2 separate regions of the Homo sapiens genome follow, and region 2 is linked to region 1. Evidence: fine-mapped expression QTL. A gene starts in region 1. The other region holds a variant in brackets. All regions are shown on one strand. Distances are from middle to middle. Region 1 holds the start of TGDS (TDP-glucose 4,6-dehydratase). Region 2 overlaps ABCC4 (ATP binding cassette subfamily C member 4 (PEL blood group)).

Evidence for each region. PIP is the estimated chance that this variant, and not a neighbour inherited with it, causes the effect.
Region 2: its variant is the best candidate, but not a certain one, in a credible set for the expression of TGDS in pancreas (GTEx, PIP 0.52).

What each region holds. Positions count from the first base shown.
Region 1 is chr13:94,594,901-94,597,813 of GRCh38, forward strand. TGDS (TDP-glucose 4,6-dehydratase) reads right to left here and starts at 1,252. Exons shown (of 12, transcript NM_014305.4): 1 at 1,151-1,252. The coding sequence starts at 1,236. RefSeq lists an enhancer at 1,116-1,425.
Region 2 is chr13:95,161,674-95,164,586 of GRCh38, forward strand. It overlaps ABCC4 (ATP binding cassette subfamily C member 4 (PEL blood group)), which reads right to left. Exons shown (of 31, transcript NM_005845.5): 16 at 2,705-2,845; 17 at 1,937-1,974; 18 at 1,449-1,543. Among named protein-coding and RNA genes, the nearest start is that of SNORD13G, 47 kb to the right of the region's middle. The variant G/A (reference allele first, on the strand shown) is at 1,320.

The sequences.
Region 1 (2,913 bases):
TCCATTCCACAATTACTAAAGACTTATATAGAATGGGCCAGGCATTCTTCCAGGTGCTGAATGAACAGTAGTCTCTGTCCTTACCGAGTTTGCATTTTAGAGTGGGGATACAAGCAATAAACAAGCAGACACAAATCCGCAATATAATTTCAGGTAGAGGTTAAGTGTGCTAGTTGGGAGAGGGGCTATTTTAGATATGGTGGTCAGGTAAGAACTCTCTGAGGTGCTATCTGAATAAAAACCAGAATTGAGTGGTGCAAACAGCCTAAGGAAAGGGGAAGCAAGTGCAAAGGCCTCAAGACAGAAGTGTGTATCTTGGTGTGTTCCAAGAACTAAGAGGGGAAGCATGGCAGGTACAGAAAAGCAGATCAGGTTGCAAAAGTAGGGCTTGGGCACTTGAGTTTTCTAGATATGGTAGAGTTTGGGCTTTATTCTTAAGTGTGGCAGGAACCACTGAAGTAAAATCCTGCTTCTACCATGATCTGATTGACTTAAGAAACACTGACTTGTATGTGAGCAACAGGCTTTAAAGGAACATGAGTGGACGCAGTTATGGCCAACCAAGAGGCTACAGCAGCAGTCGAGGCAAAAGATGACAGTAAACATGGGCTAGGGTGGAAACGGGAAACTGGTGAGAAGTGGTCGCCGTAAGGATATACTTTGGAAGTAGAGAGGACTTGCTGCTCGAATGTGGGTCTGAGGAAGAAAAGGGTGTCAACAGTGGATTTGTAAAAGTTTGCTGATTACATAGATGTCCTATTATAGTCCTTAAATCGTTTTGGGGGTGCCTATATGTACAGGGCCCATCGTGGGGTGTGGGTGCTCTAGGCTGGAGGTGGGAAGCAGTCGGTGAGCAGCTTAGGGTAACTTGCACGCACTCAAGGAGTGACATGGTGAGCACCTCCGGCCACAGAAGGGCGGAGAGTAACGCAGCTTTGGAAGAGGCGTTTTAAAGAAGTCAGTTTCAAAGGAACCACTTCTTTGCAGGCCAGAGAGAGAAAAGCTGGTCCAGGTCGTGCATTAGGACCCTCCCCATATCAGAATAAGGACCCCTCAAAGCTGGACCCAAATTACCTAGGGCAAGCAGAGCTGCGGGAAAAGGTAGGGGTTTCTGGGGAGCCACTGCTTGGCTAGCGGCGCCATTACCTACATGAAACCAGCACCGCCGGTCACCAGGACCCGCTTCGCAAAGCCGCCGGGAAGACCCCACGGTTCCTCCCAACACGCCGCCGACATCTCCCAGCTCAGCAGTGCCTAGTACCGTAAAGAGTATGGTCTGAAAAGCGCAGGGAAGTTCCGCCGCGACCTTTTGCGACGCGCCTCGCTCGCGGGACACGTTAACAGAGCAGCCAGAGGCAGCTTCCGGAGACTGCTCTGTGGCCAGTTTCTGCCCGCCCACTAGCGGGCTGGGCGGGGCCGCGCTCACCACGCGCAGGCGCTGCTCCTTTCCGCCCTTGCCTGGTCCGCCAGGTGCAATTGGGGTCGCCCGGATGGTAGGGGTATGGAACGTTTTTCCCGGAAATGCCACCACTATGGATCAGATTTATGAATGAGTACCTTTTTTCATTCTTGTACTACAGCCATCTCTAGAGGTTACCTATCAGTTGAGCTGAGAACGGGGAGTTGTTGCAGATGGAGATGGGAGGTTGCAATTTAAAAATGATTTTTTTTTTTAGTGGGGCGGGGACAGGGTCTCCCTCTGTTACCCAGGCTGGAGTGCAGTGGTGCGATCACGGCTCACTGCAGCGTCGACCAATGGGGCTCAAGCAATCCTCCCACCTCAGCCTCCTGAGTAGCTAGGAATACAGTCGTGCGCCACCACGCCCGCCTAATTTTTGGTAGAGATGGGTTTCGCCCTGTTGTCCAGGCTGGTCTCGAACTCCTGGGATCTAGCCAACCTCCCGCCTCAGCCTCCCAAGGTCCTGGGATTACAGGCGTGAGCACCGTGCCTGGCCTGCAAAATGATCTTTTGCTGTTGTTAATATTATTTCAGGCCGGGCGCCGTGGCTTACGCCTGTAATCCCAGGACTTTGGGAGGCCGAGGTGGGCGGATCACCTGAGGTCAGGATTCGAGACCAGCTTGGCCAACATGGTGAAACCCTGTCTCTACTAAAAATACAAAAATTAGCCGGGCGTGGTGGCGGGCGCCTGTAATCCCAGCTACTTGGGAGGCCGAGGCAGGAGAATTGCTTGAACCCGGAAGGCAGAGGTTGCAGTGAGCCGAGACCGCACCATCGCACTCCAGCCTGGGCAACAACAGCAAAACTCCGTCTCAAAAAATAATAATATTATTATTACAGACAGCGCAGAAGGCTTGCAATCATGATAAAGATATTCCCTAGGTCCTACGCTGATGTCTTATTCTATTCTCTCCTTTGCTCACTCCGCCCCAGCCTCCCCACCCTCCTTGCTCTTCATTCAATGTGCCAGGCATGCTACTTCCCCGGGACCTTGATTGTCTTTCCCCAGATGTCTGCCTAGTTTTTACCCTTACTTCCGTTTTCAGCTTGAATGGCATCCTATTGACCACCACAATTAAAATAGCGAGCTCTGCCCAACCCTGCCGAATCATCTTATCCTTCTTTATTTTTCTTCCTAGCACTCAACATTTACATTGATGTCACTGCCCTCTGTTTAGTGTTCCATGAGGTCAGGGGCTTTGTTTTGTTTTCTGCTGTAATCGCATGTCCTTAGAGACTTGGCACAGAATAAATGACCATTAAATATTGTCGAATAGATAAATATCTTTTTTTCCCCACCATAATGTTTGGCAAAGCTGAAAACGAATGGAAACATCCAGTACAGGTGTATATGTGGAAGAATCATACCACAACCTTTTTACAAGGCAAAGTGGTAAAACATATGAAAATTTCAAATGTTCATATTCTATGACCCCCTCAAATTCCATGATGT
Region 2 (2,913 bases), 570 kb after region 1:
TATTACTTACATTATGTCCCATAATCTAAAAAAGGTGGTATGTTTTGATACCAACATGTGATATTAACAAGGAATAGGAGAAATGATTTACCTTTTCCTTGTAGAAAATGCCCAAGTAGCTTTAAAGAATTTAAAAATACCGTATTAAGTTGCATGTGGAAAACCTCTTGAATAATTGAATTGCAAGAAAACACAAATTATATTTTAACATAAGATAATTAATCTAAATAAGCAACTAATCCCCCACTGTTTTACATAGACACAAGACATTTTTAAATGAATAAAATAAATCATACATTTTATTAAGACATGAATGAGGATCCATTATTCACATAGAAATTAAAAGAGCTTTCCTAACATCTCTTCATTCACAATGCTAAATACAGTGGGGGTAACTTCTATAACAAATATTTCCCTTTCAGATGACATGTCACTGTTATTTAACCTCTGAAAGCAGCTCAAATTCCTAACTCCATCAACGGGCATTATCCTTAGCCTGCCATCCTACACGAACATAATAGAACATAATAGATTTCCTTCTTCCTTTAGTTTCCACATAGTCCATCAGTTGGAAGGTAAACACCTAACAGATTTAGATTTCTTAGCAAGCGATCGATGAAATAAACACCAAATTTCACTGAGTAGGTTCTTACAAAGATAACTCACTCTATCTCTGAGGAAAGCTTGTAGGAGCATTTCCTGTGGAAATATTTAAAATTTTAGATGAAGATTTTCTTTAAACAGTATGTAATGCTACATACATTCTAAGCACTCTTGTGAAAACAGAGTGTGGCGTTAATATTAGTCTGGCAAGCCAAATGTTAAATTAATCACACAGTTGGGGACGCGATAACATTGTGATCTCAAGGTAAGAAATAGAAGGCATCCTAATTCCCAGACACTGGATTTTTCCCTGCTCAGCTTCCCTCTTAAGTAATTAGTGAAGCCCAGGAGATGAGCAGTGCTGAAGGGAGCTTTGCATACCTGGGAGGGAATAATGCTTTTATTTTGGGGGCCTTGCTGCCAGAGGATTTCATCCAAGTTCAATAAAAGCCAGGGTTTATTTAGACAGAATTGGAACCATCCGAACCACAGGGTGGAGATCCGTTTCTAATCCCCCTGCCCATCCGTATAATGATATAAGATTTAGCTAAAGCAACCTATTAGAATAGACAATAGCCACATATTTCCAGTGGCTGATTTTCTGAATGCTCAATCCTGGTTTAACTTTCAAAATCCAGTACAGAGCAAATTAAGAGTCTTCAGTCAACCTCTCTTCTAGTAGATTTTTAAAATAATTATTCTAATTAATTCACAGA[G/A]TAAATTCGACTGAGACTCCTGATCTGTTAAGACATTACTGAATGACTCCTGGAAGCCCTAGTTACTCACACAGGCTCATTGTAAGCACCTCAGCCTCTCATACAATACACCAAATGATTAAACTTTACCTGAATAAATTCCTAAGTACCAGTTAAGATCTAGCTTCTCGGTTACATTTCCTCCTCCATTTACAGTGACATTTAGCATACTTTGTTTGTTTGCCCTATGGAACATGGGGAGAAAAAAATATTAAGCTATATATGAAATTTAGATAAATACATTTTTTTAAAAATGAACCACAATTTGGGAGAAACGCTTCATGCTGGAAAATGATTCTCAGCTCACTTAGTCTTGTGTATATCTACCTTATAAAAATTCAATTTAAATCACAACTTTCAGTTCCCGAAACTGTCTGTGAACATGATGCCGCGGATCAGACATGGGTGGAGACCACCGCAGTTTACACTCCACCAGCAAGCACTCTAATTTTTCTTCGGGTAAACGAAGTGAGGATTAGAAGAGAAGGATCAACAAACACCTCCCTCTAACTCTATGGAAAAGCGAGTCTTCTTACTGATTTTGGAGTATTTCATACATCAGACCAGAAATAACTTACCAGTATGAAAGCCACCAATCTTGAAGCACATAGGCAACCTAGGAGGGGAGAAACAACAAAGACAAAAATCAAACTTGGGCATGACTTACCAACTCAAAACTCTCAATCGCTAACATGGACAACCGAAAGAAAGCCCTCAAAGCCGGGCGTGGTGGCTCATGCTTGTAAACCCCAGCACTTTGGGAGGCTGAGGCAGGCGGATCAACTTAAGGCCAGGAGTTCGAGACCAGCCTGGCCAACATAGTGAAACCCTATCTCTACTAAAAATACAAAAATTAGCCTAGCTGGGCATGGTGGCACATGTGCCTGTAGTCCCAGCTACTCCGGAGGCTGAGACAGGAGAATTGCTTAAACCCCAGAGGCAGAGGTTGAAGTGAGCCAAGATCGCGCCACTGCACTCCAACCTGGGCAACAGAGCAAAACTCCATCTCAAAAAAAAAAAAAAAAAGAAAGAAAGAAAGAAAGAAAGAATAAAAGGCTCAGAGAACTCGCATAGTTCTTCCAGCTCAGGTCTGTGCCAAGCCCAAACTCCCAGATATCAAGGGTTCAAGAAAATGCATATTCCATTTTAAAATCATTGAAAGATACCCTTTTTTCGCAGGTCTTTGTAACGGACATGGAACACCAGTAGGCAGCCCTCACTTTGTTCCCCAAAGACAGCACATTTCAATTCAGACCCCAAGTGAACTGCAAGATGCAGTCATAATAGCATAAACATAGGTACTGTAAATATCATTTTGAGGGCGCAAAACAAATGTCATTATTTACCTGAGCTGCAGTGTTTAGGAGAATAAGGAAAATGAAGACAATCCAGTGAGCACCAGCTCTGAAGTAATTCTTATAGGCCTGAAAACCAACTTTTCCTTCAGAACGGTTCTCCTCTGATAGTGTAACTGGGACATTCTCTGTCTGCAGAGGAAAAAAGGTGGTAAGAGACAAAACAGTATACAAAACTGTTCCCAAAGATGACAATGCAC